Linked DNA regions of Homo sapiens. The protein of the gene in region 1 interacts with the protein of each later gene in a pairwise test. Each region holds a gene or a part of one and is shown on either strand. Other genes may lie near its edges.

Evidence for each region. The genes of interacting proteins can lie anywhere in the genome.
Region 2: the proteins of SFR1 (region 1) and RNF40 interact in binary tests that used the Homo sapiens proteins (3 or more experiments, as listed by UniProt).
Region 3: the proteins of SFR1 (region 1) and NMI interact in binary tests that used the Homo sapiens proteins (3 or more experiments, as listed by UniProt).

Annotation. Positions count from the first base shown.
Region 1 is NC_000010.11:104,118,009-104,125,724, forward strand, and holds the start of SFR1 (swi5-dependent recombination DNA repair protein 1 homolog), read left to right. Parts: upstream 1-4,162; 5' UTR 4,163-4,175; coding exon 4,176-4,188; exon of another isoform or gene 4,189-4,757; coding exon of another isoform or gene 4,758-4,956; coding exon 4,957-5,078; intron 5,079-5,705; coding exon 5,706-6,116; intron 6,117-7,504; coding exon 7,505-7,696; 3' UTR 7,697-7,716. UniProt on the Homo sapiens protein: Component of the SWI5-SFR1 complex, a complex required for double-strand break repair via homologous recombination. Acts as a transcriptional modulator for ESR1.
Region 2 is NC_000016.10:30,765,322-30,772,321, forward strand, and holds part of RNF40 (E3 ubiquitin-protein ligase BRE1B), read left to right. Parts: coding exon 1-6; intron 7-103; coding exon 104-178; intron 179-841; coding exon 842-961; intron 962-1,057; coding exon 1,058-1,237; intron 1,238-1,419; coding exon 1,420-1,555; intron 1,556-2,572; coding exon 2,573-2,694; intron 2,695-2,781; coding exon 2,782-3,209; intron 3,210-3,297; coding exon 3,298-3,415; intron 3,416-3,516; coding exon 3,517-3,666; intron 3,667-3,864; coding exon 3,865-4,077; intron 4,078-4,153; coding exon 4,154-4,279; intron 4,280-6,511; coding exon 6,512-6,652; intron 6,653-6,767; coding exon 6,768-6,869; intron 6,870-7,000.
Region 3 is NC_000002.12:151,279,669-151,286,668, reverse strand, and holds part of NMI (N-myc-interactor), read left to right. Parts: intron 1-2,378; exon of another isoform or gene 2,379-3,370; coding exon of another isoform or gene 3,371-3,637; intron 3,638-3,714; coding exon of another isoform or gene 3,715-3,720; coding exon 3,721-3,801; intron 3,802-4,625; coding exon 4,626-4,721; intron 4,722-7,000. UniProt on the Homo sapiens protein: Acts as a signaling pathway regulator involved in innate immune system response.

The sequences.
Region 1 (7,716 bases):
TCTCTAATGGATTTGACAAAATGCCAGATCTGGGAGAATAAAAGGACAGGAAATTCAGGTGAAGGGAGCTTTTTAGGTTCTTGTTTAGTACATTGTCCTGAATATTAGTTATTAGATACATTTTCTAGCTGCCTGGTGATGGAAAGGTTTCATTGTGCTAATAATACTGATCCTCTCCGTATCTCCGTGTTCTAAGTAACCATCCTACTCAGTGAGGCAATCGCTCCGGCATGCCTAACAGCTATGTCAAGGGCCCTTTTCTCTTGAAGTTGATAATAAAACCCTCTCTTGCATATCTTGGCTAAAGAATATGAAATAGTTAAATCATAAAGGTCAATGTTTGGTAACAAAGTCTCTACAAGTGCAGCCATTACACATTATGGAATTCCATGTGAGATCGTTAAGGTAATAGAGAAAAAAATAGAAATATTTGTCAATTATTCTCAAAGAGAAATTTATGAAATTACACAGCACTAAAACATCACTTTACCATGGATGGGTCTATAAGATGCGACTTGAATTCATGGCAAGAGAAACTCATAGAAGAGTTTTTGAAGGGCATTTTCAACTTATGTACAAATGTCATAAGAAGTGTTGAAAGTCAGTTAAGAGAATTTGGCAGATTTTCTTGTGTTATAAATTTGTATTAAATTTAGTTTGTTTAATTTGTCCTAATGGACATCATAAATCAACAGAATCATGTGGATTTTACACAATTCCTCACCCAAGTGGATTTTAATCCTAGTTTCAGAAGCGTATATTTTTATCTTTGTTTCTTTTTTTTTTTTTTTTTAGAAGGAGTCTCTGTCGCCCAGGCTGGAGCGCAACGGTGTGATCTCGGCTCACTGCAATCTCCGAATCTCCGCCTCCCAGGTTCAAGCGATTCTCCTGCCTGAGTCTCCCAAGTAGCTGAGACTACAGACGCCCACCACCACGCCCAGCTAATTTTTGTATTTTTAGTAGAGACAGGATTTCACCATATTGGCCAGGCTGGTCTTGAACTCCTGACCTTGTGATCAGCCCGCCTCGGCCTCCCAAAGTGCTGGGATTACAGGCGTGAGCCACTGCACCCGGCCTATGTATTCGTTTCTTTTAAAAAAAAACCTATGGATACTAGTTATGTCTACATGACACAAAAATTTTTGTCAATACAGAAAAGTCTATGGTAATATAATTTAAGTTAGCTTGAGACTATTGTTAAGATTAAAAAATAATACTAAAGCTGAGAATTTAAAAATTAAAATGAACATTTTAATTATGGCTAAAAAGTACGTGTGTTTGTGCTTTTTTGTATAGGTAGAGAGAGAGACTGAGAGACTATTTACTATTCTTTTCTTGCCATTAGACAAGAATAAGAATAAAAAAAATTTTTTTGTAAAACCTCATAAAGATTTTAGGTCTATATCATCATCCCACCAACAATAATTACAGACAAGAACGAAGCATTTTACCACTCCCTGATGAGTAACAAAGTAGCCAACAGTAGCCTTGGGTATTGAAGAAATTTTAAAACACAAGGAAAGCCTGACTTAAGTTGATATTAATTACTATTATTATTGGAGTCTACTGCTTAAATTGTTCTCTATGGCAGGGTAAGGAGTCTTTGCTTCCTGGCTCACTGGGCCAGTATTTTTTCCTGCCTGAAAAGTTTCATACGAAACATACAATGTCCTGTGTCAGAAACACCAAAGTCTTCACAGGCTAATAGATTTGAAGTCACTTAAGACATTGAAATGTACGCTATGCTTTATCTAAAGGTACAATTAAAAGTATGGGGGCTATATTCCAGATCTCTGACATGAAGCCGAGAGGAAACTGGATTTCCAGTTTGTTATGTGAAAAGGTTAAGTAAAATACAAACTTCTGTACAGGGAGATAATTCAGTTCTAATAATGCATGAAAGCCAGAGATGTAGATCAACAAATGCACATTTCTGAAATACGGGTTTTTCTGAGTATATGTTCTGAAGTTCTTTGAAAATCTGGCCAAACAATCCCATTTTAAGATACCAGTTCACATAATAAGCAAGTCAGAACATTTGCAAGGCAAAATGTTGTTTTCCTTTCTGCAGCCAGGAAAAACACAGCTCTAAGCTTAGGTTGTAACGGTAAAAGGATTTGGGAGCTGCTGATTTTAGAGACTCATAAAAACAACTCGCCCTTATGCCGGGAGGTATAAAGAATATGCAGAGTCTGCACTGTGCTTCTAGTGTCAGGACAAATCATTCTGCTTTTTCTTTGAGATTAACTGATGCCAATGGATGAGTAAAGGGAGAAATAAATGTACAGACTGAGACCTGCAGCTTGGTGAGGTGAGTAACACCTTTATCACAAAATCATGAGTTCTCTCTTCCCCTTTGTAAATTCCTTGGGGTTAACTTATGTAATTTTAAAAAATTTTAGGAGTGAAATATGTATTATTAATCATATGTGAGGCTCTACATTTTCTGCTATTTATGGTTTATATTGTGTGGGATCTTACAGATCACAGCATCTTTTTAAAATATATGTGCTTTTTTGGGGGGTGGGAGATAAATCAAGGGGTGAAACTGAAGGTGATACATTCCCTTAAATCCATTAGGGAATGGTGAATACACTTGCATATATAAAATAACTACTGAGTGCTTCCTAGATACCTAGCTCTGTTCCAGCTGCCTCTCACCAGTTCTCATTTAATTCTCCAATCCCATATTAAGAGGTGAAGAAACTGAGGCACAGAATCACCTCATTAAGAAGCACATAAAGTATGGTGCCAGGATTTGAACCTAGACAATTTGACTGTAACGTGTACGCCCCTAATCATTCCCTTAGGTAGTCCTCAGGTTCTGTAATTATTATACCTGACTGCTTAAGACTCAGGTAACTCCCTTTTGGCCACTTCTAAGCCACTACTGTCAGATGTTATTAATAGTAAAGAGACGATATCAATGTTTAAAATGGCCATTCAATAAGAGGACTGAAAACACTGGCCCCTGGAAATTCCCAACTTCCACGTGACTCAGAAGTTACTCAACTCTTTCACTAAACCCAGTGCTCCACCCAATGTAGCTAACTTTGTCGTCGCGTAGCAACAGAACCTCGCCATACTGGAAGCGGGGCGCGGGGGGGGGATTTTCTCGACTGAGGATGCTGCTGCCCGGTAGCCAGCAAGGGCCCTGTCGGTCTCAAACGTGAATTTTGGACCGACACAATCTCATGTAGTGATTGTTCTGCTTCCTGTGTTGCGCCACAACAAATTTCCTTGGGCTACATTTTCCCTCAGATTTGAGTAAAAGATTTGAGGTCACGCTAAGGAGCCTGCATACTGAGGTACAGAAACGGTTTTTTGTTTACAACAACAACAAAAAACCTCGCGACGGGACCGCCGAGTTTGCGGCAGCCAAAAAAGCTAGCGATGAGCTCAGCTAAAGTGCCGGGACTCTCGGATAGATTTCTAACATGTTTGAAATGTGGACCCCAACGCTGGAACCCAACGCTGTTCTTTTGTGGTCTCTGGAACCACCACGCTGGAATAGGCTGGAACCCAACCAACGCTGTTCTTTTGTGGTCTCTGCCTCTGGGGAGTCCACAAGCTGTAAATCTAACATGCAGCCAGCCGTGCGGCTTCTGGCCGCCCCACGTCTGAGTAAAGCCTTCACTGTGACTAGCAGGGAGAGGAGACTGACTGGAGCCAGAGAATGGAGGCGGCGGGCTGGCGGGGGTGGGGAGAGGCACTTTCAGGCGCACTTCACAGACGCACAAAAACAAGGAAGCCTGAAGGGAAGGCGGTTGAAAATAAGGCAACAGAAGCCGCGAACGGAAGCGCGCCCCCCTCAGGATTGGTTTAACATTCCGAAGCTCAGCCTCGCCCGCCCCGAAGACCTGCTGCGGATCGCGGCCGCGCGCGCGCGCACTCACGCTGCTCTCGGGCGCTGGGCGGGGAGAGCCGCGCGCACCGGTTAATTCTGCCAATCATGCGTCTGGGCCTCCCATCGTGTGGGCCAAGCCCCGCCCCAACCACCCGCTGGCGGAGGCGCGCGCGCAGTCCCACCGCTCTGAGTCGCTGAGTGAAGCGGCGCCTCGCGCGTCAGGCAATCTGGCCAATTGCGCATCTTTTCCGCCTACCGCACGGCCCCGCCCCTGCCACAGGATCGATTTACGGCCGCAGGTGCGCGCGCTTTTTTGCTCTCGCTGGGAATGGCGGAGGGAGGTACCCTGCTGAGGGGAAGGGGGGATCCCTGACACCTGGGCTTCCCCGGGAGTCGGCTGTGGAGTCGAGTTGAGCTCCCTTTCCGGGTCTGGGGAACTCAACCTCACCTTATGCCTGGGGTCTCCGGGGAACTAGTGGGCTTTCTGCAACGGGGGGAAGGAGGGGACGACTCCCGCCCCTAGTTTACCCCTCAAAAGTTAATGCCTTTGTCGGAGGAAGCAATTTCAGTCCACTCTCCTTTTCAGTCCCTGTTGGCCGCTTAAACTAAAAGGCTACAGACGGGCTTAAATGCGTCTCCGCTGTGTTTCTTATGCCTCGGGCCGGCAGGGTAACGGGTTCTAGTCACAGCTTGTAGAGTTCAGGATGGGTGACATTCAGGTCCTATTGTTTTTGAGTCAAGGTTTCGGCTATAGCTTCTTGAATTATGAAGCTGTCATAATAAAGAATTCCTGATTATCTAAAGCTGTTATTCTTCCCTACTTCCAAGGCAGAATTTGAATATATTTTGGTGGATGAAACGAAAACAAGGAGAGTCTTGTGACTATGAGATACTAGCTGGTTGATGTATCATGAAAAACTTAGTGGTCCCTATGTGGGAAGGTAAATGGAAAACTGCAAAAAGAGCAAGAATGAATTACAAAGTGAAATTAGAAGAAATATCTGGCTTACTTGTGGATGCTTTGTACACCAATACAATATATTATTTGATAAAAGTCGACTATAGAGAGGTGTGGTTAATTCGATTATTTTATAATTTTTCTTTTTTAGAGAAAAACCAAGATTTCACTTTCAAGATGGAAAGTCCGTCAGACTCAGCTGTGGTTTTACCTAGCACTCCTCAGGCCTCTGCGAATCCATCATCTCCCTATACAAATAGTTCCCGAAAACAAGTATGAAAATCTTTGTTCTTCCAGTGGATCCATTATGTGTTTCTAAGTATTGTGGCAGTGGTGGTTTAAATTCTACGGAAGGTTGTTAATTAACATAATGTGTAGCATAAATAAGTAGACATTTTATTAAATAATTTTGTTTTTCTTCTAAGGTGACATATATGACACCCACCAGCCCCCTTCCATATTTTCCTCTTGAATGAATTCATTTCAGTTAGTTTCAGATTAGGTTATTACAATACTCCAGATGGAGAAAGTTTGCATCTGTGCAATATTATTATGAAGGTCTTTAGTGGCAGAGTCTAGGTCTTTTCCTTACTCTGTAATTCTGAAGCACCTGGAGTACTATCAGGCATGTGCTTGTTACTGAACAAATGTTCCTTGATTACTGGGATAAACTTCTCAACACTTTTGGAAAGGTGTTGATCTTGCTGAAGTAAAAAGGAAATAAAACAAATGGAGCTTCCAGAAATTAAAGTCATTTTGTGATGCCTTCTTTAGATGTGGAGACAGAAAGCCATCTAGTGGTGTCTAGCATAGAAATGGAAGGACTTTATTTCTGGTGATTTATTGACATTAAGAATGTTTTTCTTGATTCACATTTTTAATGTTTTGTGCTCTTTATAGCCTATGAGTGCAACACTTAGAGAAAGATTAAGGAAAACAAGATTTTCATTTAATTCCTCTTACAATGTGGTGAAACGTCTTAAAGTAGAGAGTGAAGAAAATGATCAGACCTTTTCAGAGAAACCAGCATCTTCCACAGAGGAAAACTGTTTGGAATTTCAAGAAAGTTTTAAACATATAGACAGTGAATTTGAAGAAAATACAAATTTGAAAAATACTTTGAAGAATCTCAATGTCTGTGAATCTCAGTCACTTGATTCTGGATCATGCAGTGCTCTCCAAAATGAGTTTGTGAGTGAGAAGCTTCCTAAACAAAGATTAAACGCTGAAAAAGCCAAATTGGTGAAGCAGGTTCAGGAGAAAGAAGACCTTCTTCGGAGGCTAAAACTAGTCAAAATGTATAGATCAAAGGTGAGAAGAATTTCAGGACCATTGCATAATTTTTATTTTTACATAAATTACAGGAAAGTAATTTCAAAAATAGAATTTTTTTTTTTACCATAATAAGCAATAAGCCAAATATTCAGAAACCTGGCTTCCAACAGCTTTAATTCAACTCCAGATTTAGAGTAGAAAAGGCCCTTAAACACCAGGTAAAACTTTTTAAGAATCTCAGCTCTGATTTAATATGCAGTTAAACTTTTCTCTCTAGTTTCTAGCCCACAGCAATATTAGAAGTATTAAATGTTAGATGCAAGTACAATGGGAACAGAAGTGAAAGCTGACAGTGAATTAGTAAAACTAAAAATGGGCTGTAGAGTACAATAAAAGGTATTTTTAGTAATGATCTTGTGTCTCCCCCAAATAATTAATGTGATTCAGCCATTTTATTTGAGAAAATATATATATATATATATTATATTTTAGATTTCAACCCATATAGGTTGAATTAAATAGAACTTGGGTACTTGGAAGGAGAATAATCTTTATTACCTGGAAAATTCATATATATGCAATAGCTCATTTTCCCTGAATTACGTGGAATAAGTGATGGGATAGTGTATCTCATTTGTTCTCTTGAAATTCTGGAGTTTTTAAAAAATAAAATTTAGGAGTATTGAATGTTGAAAAAATATATTTTATTTATTTATTCATTCTTTTTTTAGAGACATGGTCTCTGTTGCCCAGCCTGGAGGGCAGTGGTGCAGTCATAGCTTATTGCAGCCTTGAACTCCTGGGCTCAAGTGATCCTCCCAACTCAGCCTCCCTAGTAGCTGGGACTACAGACATGTGCCATCACACCTGGCTAATTTTTTAAAATTATTTTTTTGTAGACATAGAGTCTTGCTATTTTGCACAGTGTAGTCTTGAACTCCTGGGCTCAAGCAGTCCTCCCACCTTGGCCTCCTAAGGTGCTGGGATCCCAGGTGTGAGCCACCATCCCCAGCCTAAAAAAATATTTTTAACTTGAATATTGTAATTTTAAAGAGCAGTTTTAGGTTCATAGCAACATTTAGTGGAAAGCATAGTGTCATTTTTTAAAAAGTACAGTTGTAATACAGTAGATTTTTCCCTGTATTATTGCTTCTTGACATAGTTTTGGCCCTATTTAATGATTTGATTTTTCCCTTATCATAAAGATGGCCCAGAGCTTAAGCCAACAAAATAGCCATAGAACTCAAGTTGAGTGACATTGTAACCATTCTACATATGACCATCCTACTTTTTCCTAGATAGAAGTCCCATTCATCCCTGTGTATGTTAGCCTTTAAACCTGCACATCCACTAATTTAACAACTTTAATTAAGTTGAACTAGCATGACTAGTTATTGACATACATGTTTTTTTTTCTGTTTCAGAATGATCTGTCTCAGTTACAGTTGTTAATAAAGAAGTGGAGAAGCTGTAGCCAGCTCTTGCTTTATGAGTTGCAGTCAGCTGTGTCTGAAGAGAACAAGAAACTAAGCCTTACTCAATTGATAGACCACTATGGGTTAGATGATAAATTACTACACTATAACAGAAGTGAAGAAGAATTTATAGATGTTTAATTCCTGATTTTTGCTCCAGA
Region 2 (7,000 bases), on another chromosome or scaffold:
GAGCAGGTGGGGCAGGGGTGCTGGGGCAGGTGAGGCAAGGCTGGGCCCTTGGGCCTTAGCTCCTCCCCTCTACATCCATTGCCTGTCTGTTTTCTCTCCACAGCTTAACTCTGGCTACTATGTATCTGGGAGCTCCTCAGGCTTCCAGGGGGGCCAGATCACACTCAGCATGCAGAAGGTGAGCGGCGTTTTCCTCCCACCCCTTCTCACAACCTCTTCTCTGTTGCACTCTTGAAATTCCCCTCAGGACAAAGGACAAACATCCATCTCTGAGGCCCTTCCTGGTCACTCCTGCTGCTCTTTTTTTCATGCATTCATATACTTGTTGAGTAGATTTTTGAACACTTAGTGCTAGGCACTAGGCATATTGGCGAGAACAAAATAGAGGTCAAAACTTTCATGGACCAGACAAGAAATAAATAAAAGAATATATCTTTAGGTTCTACTTGTGGTAACAGACAAGAAATCAGTAAAATAGCATATCAGTGTGTTATGAGTACCACAAAGATAAAGCACAGAAGAGAGAGCTAAGAGTGAGTTGGAGTCAGTTGGCATCTGGTGGTCACTGTGCCCTTTTTCCCTTTATTAGCACTTTAGGCCTTTCTGGAATGCCTTCCGTGACTCCCCATCAGTTAAGAGCCTTAGTTCCCAGCACCGACCATGCAGTATTGAATTTTCTCCCATTTTTCTGGGAGCCCTTAGGAAAGTACTTGGTTTGGGGTGTCAGAATCGATCATTGCCCTGCACGGGGTGCTTGGGGTGGAGTGTATGCTGGGGATGTAAGGGAGGCCTGCTGCCACGTCTGGCCCTGCCTCCCATGGCCCTGCCTCCCACTCCTTAGTTTGAGATGCTGAATGCAGAGTTAGAGGAAAACCAGGAACTGGCCAACAGCCGTATGGCAGAGCTGGAGAAACTGCAGGCCGAACTTCAGGGGGCTGTGCGGACCAATGAGCGCCTCAAGGTGGGCTGCTGTAGGGGCTGAGAGGTCCTGGGCCTGTAAGGGAGGGACTGAGCCCTGAATCCTGTTGCTGATCCCATTTGGGCATCCCTGCCCCAGGTGGCCCTGCGGAGCCTTCCTGAGGAGGTAGTGCGGGAGACGGGGGAGTACCGCATGCTGCAGGCCCAATTCTCACTGCTCTACAACGAGTCTCTGCAAGTGAAGACCCAGCTAGACGAGGCTCGGGGCCTGCTGCTGGCCACAAAGAACTCCCACCTGCGACACATCGAGCACATGGAGGTATGGCCCTGGAACAGGCGTTAGGGCTGGGCTAAGGGCCAAACCGTTAGTGTTGACGTGTTTGTGCCTTCCGAGGCCCTGTGTGCCAGCCAGGGGTCCCTGGGGAATAGATTCTTCCTAAGATACTGAGTCCTGAGGTGGGACCGAGGGGCTGTGTGGGTCCTTAACACATCAACCCACAGAGCGACGAGCTGGGGCTGCAGAAGAAGCTACGCACAGAGGTCATTCAGCTGGAGGACACGCTGGCCCAGGTACGCAAGGAGTATGAGATGCTGCGCATCGAGTTTGAGCAGAATCTGGCGGCCAACGAGCAGGCGGGTATGTGGTGAGGATAGGGCGGAGGTGGGGCCTTATCTGGGAGTGCTGGGCCCTGGTGTGGGGCTGCTGCTTATCCAGATGCAAGAGGCTAAGGCCTTTTTTTTCACAGAGCCTCGGCTTCCTATGCAAAACAGGGCCTGCACTGCTTGGCTCCCAGGCACAGTGAGGGTCCGCCAGCTGGGGTGGCTGATGGAGCAGGCACATGCAGAGTCTGAGCTGTCAGCCCTGTCCTCATTCTTCTGGTCTGATGACGTCTCTGTCTCTCAGATACTTGTGTTACAAAGATTTATCAAATGCCACCTCTGAGCCAGGCTCTGTTCTAGGGTTTGGGGTTATGCCAGTGAACAAAACAGAATTCCTGCCATGTGGAGCAACATTCTGATAGAAGACAGACTAGAGGAAGACGAACTAGTAGAAGAAAAATGGAAAATGTGTTAGCTCTTGACAGATAGGAAAGTAAAGCAGAAAAGGAAGATAGGAAGTATCAGGAGAAAGGGTGTTGCAATTTTGAATAGGAGGCCAGGGAAATGTACTGGGAAGGTGATATTTAAGAATCTAGAAGAAGTTAACTAACTTTTGTGAATGTTACAGTTACCTTCTCTATTAAAGGGAATTGGATGTATAAAAAAAAAAAAGAAAAAACCTAGGCCAGGTGTGGTGATTCATGTCTGTAATCCCAGCACTTTCGGAGGCCAAGGTGGGAGGATCACTTGAGGCCAGGAATTTGAGACCAGCCAGGGCAACAAAGTGAGACACTGTTTCTATTTAAAAAAAAAACAAAAAACCCCACATATTCTATATTAGCAAAAATCGTATGAATAGGCAGTGTCAAGTTAATTTTGGGTGAGTTTCCTTGAAGTCAGCATTATTTACTTTGATGAGTTCATGCTCCGTTGAGGCCGCAATGTTCCCCTCCTGCACAGTGGGAGTGATGGCATAGCCTCTTACCCCACTGAGGGGTTGGAGTCCTAACCCAGGAACTGGTTCTGACACCTTTACTTGCTGATGCTCCTCCAGGGCCCATCAACCGTGAGATGCGCCACCTGATTAGTAGTCTTCAAAACCACAACCACCAGCTAAAAGGGGACGCCCAGCGATACAAGCGGAAGCTTCGAGAAGTACAAGCTGAGATTGGCAAGGTGAGAAGGGGCCTGCCTGGGAAAAGGTTTGGCTAGACTCCAGTGAACACCATCTGACTTCATCCCTCTTCCTCTCTGCCTTTGCAGCTCCGGGCCCAGGCCAGTGGCTCTGCCCACTCCACCCCCAACCTGGGCCACCCAGAGGATTCTGGCGTCAGTGCCCCAGCCCCAGGGAAAGAGGAGGGTGGGCCAGGCCCTGTCAGTACCCCCGACAACAGAAAGGAGATGGCTCCAGTGCCTGGCACCACCACTACTACCACTTCAGTGAAGAAGGAGGAGCTGGTCCCCTCTGAAGAGGACTTCCAGGGTATAACCCCTGGGGCCCAGGGCCCTTCCTCCCGGGGCCGAGAACCTGAGGCCAGGCCCAAGCGGGAGCTTCGGGAACGGGAAGGTCCCAGCCTAGGACCTCCACCTGTAGCCTCCGCTCTCTCAAGGGCTGATCGGGAGAAGGCCAAGGTGGAAGAAACCAAGCGGAAGGAATCAGAACTCCTCAAGGGTCTCCGAGCAGAGCTCAAGTGAGGCTCTGTTCCTGTCTCCTTCCTGACCCTGCCAGGTGGCCTCCAGTCCCACTCACTAAGACTTCCTCCTGTACCTTCTTGCCAGGAAGGCCCAGGAGAGCCAGAAGGAGATGAAACTGCTGCTGGATATGTACAAGTCAGCGCCCAAGGAGCAGCGGGATAAGGTGCAGCTCATGGCAGCGGAACGCAAGGCTAAGGCCGAGGTGAGGGCAGCTGGGGCTTGTGGGGCATTCAGAAAGGCAGAGCAGAGTCCTAGCTCAGCAGGAAGCAGTGTCAAGAGAGTTTCTTCTTCCCTGTGCTATAGGTTGATGAGCTGCGGAGCCGCATCCGGGAATTGGAGGAGAGGGATCGAAGGGAGAGCAAGAAGATCGCGGATGAGGATGCCCTGCGGCGCATTCGGCAGGCAGAGGAGCAGATAGAACACCTGCAGCGCAAGCTGGGTGCCACCAAGCAGGTGCGGCCCATGTGGTGCCCTCGCGTCGGAGCGCAGGGAGTTCCCTTCATACCCTGTTTGGTGCCTCTAGTGCCTGCAGGACCTTGATGATCTGGGTCCCCTCTGTAGTTCTTTGCTTCGCTGCGTTTTCCCATGGTTCCCCCACAGCCATCCTGTCCACTTCCCACGTTCCATCTTGTCTCTGCCCACTTGCTGCAGGAGGAGGAGGCTCTGCTCTCAGAGATGGATGTGACAGGTCAGGCTTTTGAGGACATGCAGGAACAGAACGGGCGGCTGCTACAGCAGTTGCGGGAAAAGGATGATGCCAACTTTAAGCTAATGTCAGAGCGGATCAAGGCCAACCAGATTCACAAGCTGCTGCGGGAGGAGAAGGATGAGTTGGGCGAGCAGGTCCTTGGCCTCAAGTCCCAGGTATGGCCGCCGCCAGCTTGCAGACTGGAGCTGGAGAGGTGGGGGTCATGGCCCTGAGTCCTCCTCTGGTCCTTAGGTGGATGCCCAGCTGCTGACTGTGCAGAAGCTAGAGGAGAAGGAGCGAGCCTTGCAGGGCAGCCTCGGGGGTGTGGAGAAGGAGCTGACGCTGCGCAGCCAAGCCCTGGAGCTCAACAAGCGGAAGGTGAGGCTGGGCCAGGGGGACACACAGCTTGGGCTGCTGGCTCACCTCCTCACCTTCCGGTTCTGCTCAGAGCACCCGATGCAATAGCCTGAGGTGAAGCCAGGCTGTCACAGAACAGCTCACACATATTGAACATTTACATGTGCCAGACCACATGCTGAGTACTTGACATGCTTGGTCACATTTCAGTCTCACTAATCCTATCAAGATGGTGTTTACGGGCGTGGTGGCTCACGTCTGTGATCCCAACACTTTGGGAAACAGAGGCGGGAGGTTTGCTTGAGGCCAGGAGTTGGAGACCAGCCTGGGCAACATAGTGAGACCCCATCTCTACAAAAAAATTTTAAAATTAGCTGGGTGTGCTGGTGCACGCCTGTAGTCCCAGCTTCTCGAGCAGGCTGACAGGTGAGAGGATCACTTGAACCCAGGAGGTTGAGGCTGCAGTGAGCTATGATCGCACTGCACTGCAGTCTGGGTGACAAGAGCGAGACTCTGTCCCTAGGGAAAAAAAACAAAAGATTTTTGAGTTGGAGTCTTGTTCTGTCGCCCGGGCTGGAGTGCAGTGGTGCGATCTCGGCTCACTGCAACCTCCGCCTCCCAGGTTCAAGCAACTCTCCCAACCTCAGCCTCTCAAGTAGCTGGGATTACAGGCGCGCACCACCACGCCTGGCTAATTTTTGTATTTTTTTTTAGTAGAGACAGGGTTTCGCCATGTTGACCAGGCTGGTATCGAACTCCTGACCTTGTGATCCACCCACATTGGCCTCCCAAAGTGCTGGGGTTACAGCGTGAGCCACTGCACCTGGCTGGATTTTGTTTTTAGCCTCGTTTTATAAATAAGGAAACTGAGGCTCAGGGAGGTGGATTGTTCTGCTCAAGAGGGAGTGGCCCTAATATTTGGGTCCAAGCCTCCTTGACTCCAGGCTCTACCTTCTAACCACTCGCTGGTGAACTGTAAAGTGGGGATGATGTTCTTTGTCACATAGTTGTATTAAATAGAAGAAATGTCTAGCTTTGGCTAAAGGCTTAAGATTAACATTGATTTCCATTTCCTCTGAAGCTGTTTTCTTCTCCAGTTAGTTCATTCATTTAAGCAGTATGTTTGTGGTTTTTTTGTTGTTGTTTTTTTTAGACGGAGTCTAGCTCTGTTGCCCAGGCTGGAGTACAGTGGCTCGGTCTCAGTTCACTGCAACCTCCGCCTCCCAGGTTCAAGCGATTCTTCTGCCTTAGTGTCCCGAGTAGCTGGGACTACAGGAGCCTGCCACCTCGCCCAGCTAATTTTTGTATTTTTAGTAGAGACGGGGTTTCACTGTGTTTGCCAGGCTGGTCTCAAACTCCTGACATCGTGATTTGCCCGCCTTGGCCTCCCAAAGTGTTGGGATTACAAGTGTGAGCCACTGTGCTTGGCCCATTTAAGCAGCATATTTTACATCCCTGCTATGTACTAGGCCTTGCGCTGATTGCTGTGGAGACATTGGGAACAAGAAGGTCCCTGCCTTCCAGTCAAAGCTGGAACTTCAGGTCTTGGCAGGCAGAGCAGGCCAGTAATCCCCCAAATAAAATAGTGCATGTCACAGTAAGCCTTGTGCAGGAATCTGAGGTGCTGTCAAAGAAAAATAGGGGAGCCTTTTAGGAGGTGACACTTGAGCTGAGGCCCAGGGGAGCTGCATGTGTGGTGGGGAAGTTGAGGGGAGCAGAGAGGAGAGCCTTGTGAAAGCTCAAAAACCAGACAGCAGGCCAGGCGTGGTGGCTCACGACTGTAATCCCAGCACTTTGGGAGGCCGAGGCGGGCAGATCATGAGGTCAGGAGATCTAGACCATCCTGGCTAACACGGTGAAACCCCATCTCTACTAAAAATACAAAAAATTAGCTGGGTGTGGTGGTGGGCGCCTATAGTCCCAGCTACTCGGGAGGCTGAGGCAGGAGAATGGTGTGAACCCAGGAGTCGGAGGTTGCAGTGAGCTGAGATCGTGTCACTGGACTCCAGCGTGGGGGACAGAGTAAGACTCCGTCTCAAAAAAACAAAAAACAAAGAAACCCCAAAAAACAGCATCACACGGGAGGAACTGGAGAGGGAGAACAGGAGGGGAGGGCTTAGGGCTCAGGAGGCAGGAGCAGCTCCAGGGCAGGTGTCACTGGGGCCCTGGACAGAAGCATTGGTGGGCCGTGACTCCACATGCCTGAGTCACCAGGCTCAGACCAGTGCCTCCTTCCTGTTCCACCCTACTCAGGCTGTAGAAGCCGCCCAGCTGGCCGAGGACCTGAAGGTGCAGCTGGAGCACGTGCAGACTCGGCTGCGGGAGATCCAGCCCTGCCTGGCAGAGAGCCGGGCTGCTCGTGAGAAAGAGAGCTTCAACCTCAAGAGGGCTCAGGTGTGTGCAGGGGTGAGGGGCCAGGCCAGGGTGGTCCACGGTCACGGACCTATCCTGGGGGCAAGCGGCTCAAGGTTGAGGACCCTTGCCCTTAGCCAGGCCTCTCCTGCCCCAGGAGGACATCTCACGGCTGCGGCGCAAGCTGGAAAAGCAGAGGAAGGTGGAGGTCTACGCAGATGCCGACGAAATCCTCCAGGAGGAGATCAAGGAGTACAAGGTGGGGCTGTGGGCCAAGTTGTGCCCTATCCACCTGAGAATTGTAGATGCAGGATTGCTGAGACTAGTGGAGAGTCTGGGGACCCTGGAAGTAATGTAGGGCAGCAGAAAGTGGGCAGCACAGTGGTCACA
Region 3 (7,000 bases), on another chromosome or scaffold:
TCTGTGATATGAATTCAGAATTAAAAACTCAGGGAAGGGACTAGAGGTAATTGTTCTGTTTTCTGGCAGGTCCCACATTTAGGCAGATAGGAGAACATCAGTGCACCTTCATCCTGTGCTTTGGGAGAGACAGAGGAGGAGGAGGGGGAGGTCAGAGAGACCTTGAGCCATCTTCAGTTCACCATGTCAAAATGCCATACTTCCGGGTATCAGTTTCTGAGCCCCAGTGATAGCAAAAGGATCCAGTTGAGGATCATGCTTTCTACTTAGTTGTGAGGTCTCTTTAGTCTCCTTCAGTATGGACATTTCTTAGTCTTTCCTTGGCCTTCTGAACTTGAAACTTTTGAAGAGAACAGGGCAGTTGTATTGTAGAACCCCTCAATTTGAGTTTGTCTGATGTTTCCTCATGCTTAGATTCAGATTATGCATCTTTGGCAGGACTGTCGTCGAAGTTACATTGTGTTCTCAGTGCACCTTGTAATATGTTACATTATTTTGATTTATTCCATTATTTACTTTGATTATCTCATTATGTTGATGTCTGCCAGACTTCTCCAGTATAAAGTTACTCTTTTCTTCTTTGAAATTAATAAACATTTTGTGGGGAACTATTTTGAAGCTAACTAAAAATTCCTTTCTTCATCAAAATTTCTAATTTATCTGGACTCAGTTTTTTACTTTAATCAACAGATTTAATCATTACTACCATTATGTATTTTAATCTTTAATTTATCCCCAGATTTGGCCACCGAAAACCATCTCAAGGTGGATTCTGTGTCGTTTCAACATGTCATCATCATTCTTTAAGCATTTCCTTGCTTTTTGGCATCATAAGATGTCCCAGGCTCATCTTGCAGTTTTTCTATCCTGGTTTTGGGATCAACCATTTCTCTAAAGAGTCCTGGTTCCTTTTGGTGGAGAATAGTATTAGAAACCAAAGTCTGGGTGCTGAGTGTGCTCATTGCTCATTGTGGTTGTATCTGCTCTCCCAGGCCTTCTCAGCAGACAGAGCTAGGGTATATATGTATTTGTATATACACAAGATACACACATAGGCATTGCTTTTTTTTTTTTTTTTTCTGAGATGGAGTCTCACTCTGTCGCTCAGGCTGGAGTGCTGTGACGCAGTCTTGACTCACTGCAACCTCTGCCTCCCGGCTTCAAGCGATTCTCCTGCCTCAGCCTCCCGAGTAGCTAGGATTACAGGTGCATGCCACCATGCCTGGGTAATCACACATAGGTATTTCTATCTGTCTGTCTATTTATCTATCTATCTATCTATCTATCTATCTATCTATCTATCTATCTATCTCAATCATCAATCAGAAACCACAGCTGCAGGATTACATTGAAATCTAGTTCCAATCAACAGTATTTATTCTTGTTTTCTCCATTTCCATATTTATAATTATCTTCTCTGACGGTGAAAAACTTGGCTCCTATTATCCTCCATATATTTACTTACTTGATCAATTCTGTGTATGTACTTTTGGCCACTGGAGCCCTTTCAGTTGGGTCCCCATGTCCCTTTCACATACTCCCATCATATTGTATGTGTTTGTGCATGTGTTTTAGTGCTTTTTACTTTTCTGGCACTACAAGATATTCCAGGCTTATTTTGTATATTTTATACCCCAGACCTAGAATCAGCCATTGCTCCAATGAGCCCTGGTTTCTTTTATTGAAGAATATTATTAGAAACCAAGATCTGGGTGTTATGCGACTCTCCTCTTTTTTTGACACTCCTGTGTTCATTAAACTAAGACATAGCTAAGTTTTTGCTAGTCTTCTATTTTATTTTTAAGGAGGAATAGATGTCTTTTATTTCTTTTTCAAGAATATTGAGAATTTAGCCACTTGAAATCTTGGAAAATTATATGGCAGACTGTTTATTAATGTGTATCTAAAAACATAGAATCATGATATCCTTTGTCCCATTTTTGATCTGAGAGTTTTTCATCTCAGTAAATTCATATGTAGGCAAGAGTTCTTAAATTTTGTGTACCATGGATTCCTTTGCCAGCTTGGCAAATCCTATGGGCCTTTCTCCAAAAAAAAAACATTTAGTCAATGCCTGTGGGGACAGGCATGGTGGCTTATCCCAGCACTTTGGGAGTCCAAGGGGGGCGGATTGTTTGAGCCCAGGAGTTCGAGACAGTCTAGGCAACTTGGCGAAAACACATCTCTACAAAAAATACAAAAATTAGCTGGGCATGGTGGCACATACCTGTAGTCCCAACTACTTGGGGGGCTGAGGTGGGAGGATCACTTGAGTCAGGGATGTTGAGGCTGCAGTGAGCCGTGTTCATGCCCCACTGCACTCCAGCCTGGGCAACAAAGTGAGACCCTATCTAAAAAAAAAATTAAATGCATAAAATAAAATACATAGAATTACAAAGTAAATCAATTGTATTGAAATATGACTGGGATTATAGGCACCTGGCACCACGCCCAGCTAATTTTTTTTGTATTTTTAGTAGAGACGGGGTTTCACCATGTTGGCCAGGCTGGTCTCAAACTCTTAACCTTGTGATCCACCCGCCTTGGCCTCCCAAAGTGCTGGGATTACAGACATGAGCCACCGCGCCCGGCCAGAAATCAATTGTATTGAAATATGGTTATCAGAATATTTAAAAAGCAAATGTTTGATATAGTGATATATATCAATGTATTACAATATATTACAAGACCTAGTGGTGAGGTTAGTAACTAATGTAGAAGCAATGTTAAACACAAACTATTTTAGCATATCTGCAACAATATTCTATGAAACTATCTGTGCTTTCTATTGGTGACTATCACAGGTGCTGTGAATACTACTGTAGTTTGTTACCATATTCATAATTGAAGAGAATGCTAAGCTTCAATTAGAGGTTATTAGAAATAAACATATAATTTCTTCCCAATCCATGTTTATGGACCCAGCAGGAGAGTTAGTGAAAGCTTCAGGTAAGAACACCTGCGTAGAGAAAGCATATGTTGGAGGCCTCTTGACTTTGTTTACATTTGGGGAGAACAATAGGGAGAATTAAATATTTTAATCAAAAACTTTGAAAAACGTTGGAAAACCAAAATAGTATTCATTTAAAATGGAGCATGATATTATGGTTGGAATGTGAACTACAAAGGAACATTAATGTTCATTACTTTCTATATATTATTTTGTTGAAAAGCAAAGGATTTTTAGAATCTTTTTATATATTATAGGTGTGAAAGTTATTTGAAATATTGGCCAGGTGCTGTGGCTCACGCCTGTAATCCCAGCACTTTGGGAGGCCGAGGGGGGTGCATCACTTGACAAGAGTTCAAGACCAGCCTGACCGACATGGTGAAACCCCATCTCTACTAAAAATACAAAAATTAGCCGGGCATGGTGGCAGGTACCTGTAATCCCAACTACTTGGGAGGCTTGAGACAGGGGAATCACTTGAACCTGGGAGGCAGAGGTTGCAGTGAGCCAAGATCGCACCATTGCCCTCCAGCCTGGGCGACAGAGAGAGACTCTGTCTCAAAAAAAGAAAAAAAAAAGGAGTTATTAAAATACAGACTTTGTTTGGATATAAGCCATATGATAATAAAGCCTTTGATGATGGGAAAAAAAGATATAGCAAAGAAGAGATGTTTCTTCCATAAAAGGGTAAAAGTTCTTATTTCTTTGTTCTTAAATTTGTGTATATATGCTATGCTTATAATATTTATTTTTTATAATATTAGGGGATCATGGAAGCTGATAAAGATGACACACAACAAATTCTTAAGGAGCATTCGCCAGATGAATTTATAAAAGATGAACAAAATAAGGTAAAAAGGAAATTACTGGGTATTATTAAAAATTATTTTATATCTATTAGTTTTGCAGTAAGGCATGTTTTGTATGTCTTTGTCCAACATTACCTTGAATTTGGGAGGCCGTTAGGCTTTAAAAAAATTTTTAACTTCCATTATGTTATTTAAGCCTTACAAGAAGTGTCATATTTTTATTCTTTCTCTTATAAGGCTTACAACACTAGCTGCTTTCTCACTCACACCCTCATTTCTTGGATTTGCATCAACAAGTTAAGAGCATAGTCAGCAATTATCTCATTAGACCCCAAGAGGGAACGGAGGCCCAGGTAGCTTAAACCACTTCCCCAAGGTCATATGTCTGGCTCATTAAGGTAACTGTGTACTATGCGATACTATGGGAATCACAGATAATTAAGAACAAAAACAACAACAACACCAACAACAAACTGCCCCAGAATATGTCCGCTATTACAGTGCAATTTAAAAGTCTTATCATGCTCACAAATAGCTAGGAAAGGAGTTGATGCAGCACTGAAGTAATATTCAGAAGATCTGATCTCAATCTTTGCCTTACTATACAACTTTCTGTGACTTCGGTCTAGTGTAAAAGGTGGTTTCCTGATTTATATAATGGAGATAGTACTACTTGGCAATGTTAGAATAGACAGGTGATGATGTAAAATATTCAACAAATGCATTATTCACATAGTCATATTTATTCTGAGACTGTCTAATGTCTTTCTTTGGTCAGGATGAGAGAAATTTATAGTCTTTAGTTCATTCGGAAAAATGAGTTCAGGGGCTATTTACTTTCTTTGGTACCATTTGATATTTTTAAGGGACTAATTGATGAAATTACAAAGAAAAATATTCAACTAAAGAAGGAGATCCAAAAGCTTGAAACGGAGTTACAAGAGGCTACCAAAGAATTCCAGGTACTCTCTTAATTATTTTATATACTACATTTTTGATGGATGCATGGTTTTTGGAAAAAGCATTTTAATTACACAAAATTCATTTTTAAAACCTTATCATCATCCATGGCACCACCATTTGTAATAGTTCAAAATGGAAAACAACCCAATGATTCCTTCATAGTAGAACGAATTAGTGAATTGGGGTATAGTCATATGATAGAAAACTACACAGCAATGAGAATGAACAGATCATAATGACATGCAGCAACACAAATGAGTTTCATAAACACAATGTTAACACAAAAAAGACAGAAGAGGGCATACCATATGCTTCCCTTTAAATTAAGCAAAAGCAGGATGTTTGAAGTTAAAACAGTGGTTATTTTGGAAGCAGGTAAGACCCAGAAGGGAACCCAAGGGGGTTTCTGGGGTGTTGTCATGTCCTGCCTATCATCTGCGTGCCAATCACGTGTGTTAGCTTTGTAAAATTTCATCTTGCTGTACTTAATGATACATGCATTTTTCTATTATTTACGTACACTTTAATAAATTTACAAAAACAAAAAATTAATAAAATTTACCAAAAAAAGATGGTCATTAGCAAATTACTGTTGGATCAAATTCTGGCTTTTCTCACTGAGTTCTTTTATAATTCTTCTCATCCAAGGTGCTTTGGTAATTTAGATGAGTTTCACGGTTCAAAAAATTGGACATATATTAATCCTCACCATTTAAATTCTCTCCTAAATTTTCCTGTATTTTAATTGTACATAATTTTCACCCATTTTTTTTCTTAACAACTCAGATGTTAAAAAATTAAAGCATTGAGGCTGGGCGCGGTGGCTCATGCCTGTAATCCCAGCACTTTGGGAGGCTGAGGCGGGTGGATCATGGGGTCAGGAATTCACGACCAGCCTGGCTAAGATGGTGAAACCCTGTCTCTACTAAAAAAGAAAAATTAGCCAGGCATGGTGGCGGGTGCCTGTATCCCAGCTACTTGGGAGGCTGAGGCAGAGAATTGCTTGAACCTGGGAGGCGGAGGTCGCGATGAGCTGAGATCACACCACTGTGCTCCAGCCTGGGCGACAGAGCGAGGCGCCGCCTAAAAAAAAAAAAATTAAAGCATTGACACTTCTTGTTTCTGAAGTGGGAGATAGGATATTGAATATCAGGAAGTGAGGTTTTCTGTGTTTATGAGATGGGTGACTTTGTGCAGAAGACTCTGTTAAGATTCTGGTTACTTCTCAGACTGGAGCTAGAATCATGCAGTCTTATAACTCAAAGAGCCTTTAGAAACCGGCCAGCCCTAGTCGACCCACTTTGCAGAGGACCAAACCTGTGATCAGAGAGCTTAAGTAAATTTGCTGTCTGTCGCAGTGTGGTCAGAAATAGAATCAAGCTTTCTCACTCTAATTTCAGAAAGCCCTTGCTCCTCAGCATATACTGGGTATTTCTGCATTATTGGGTAACACTCTGCCTTTACTCAGACATTGTAGACTGTTTTGATGTCAGCCTTACCGTAATCAGAAGTTCCACTGGAGTTATGCATAAAGGCAAAGAATAAATGTAAGATTAAATTGAATGACTCACTGAATATTTCTAATCTCTGTGTTATTTTCAGCATGTAAAATAACCATGGGCAATAGAAATGCAAGCATCTATCTCATTTGTGCATTTATGTGTAGTTATATGAATCTGTTAATCCCAATAATTCTAAGCAGCTAAGTATAACCACCTACCTTTATCTTTCAGGTTACAATTTTTTTTTTTGAAACAGAGTTTTGTTCTTGTTGCCCAGGCTGGAATGCAATGGTGCGATCTCGGTTCACTACAACATCCGCCTCCCTGGTTCAAGCGATTCTCCTGCCTCAGCCTCCTGAATAGCCAGGATTACAGGCGTTTGCCACCACGCCCAGCTAATTTTTGTATTTTTAGTAGAGATGGGTTTTACCATGTTGGCCAGGCTGGTCTCAAACTCCTGACCTCAGGTGATCTGCCTGCTTTGGCCTCCCAAAGTGCTGGGATTACGAGTGTGAGCCACCTGTGTAGCCTCAGCTTACAATTTCTGTTGATACTGTCCCTTCTCATTTTTTATAAACCTAAGTTGTGGTAATGGTTAAAAAGTTGATGGGCAGGTGTTGGGGAAGGTGGAATTTTTAAATTTGATAAATTTAACATCATCTAATTCTGGGCCAGGTGTGGTGGCTCACGCCTGTAATCCCAGCGCTTTGGGAGACCAAGGCAGGCAGATCATGAGGTCAAGAGACCATCCTGGCCAACGTGGTGAAACCCTGTCT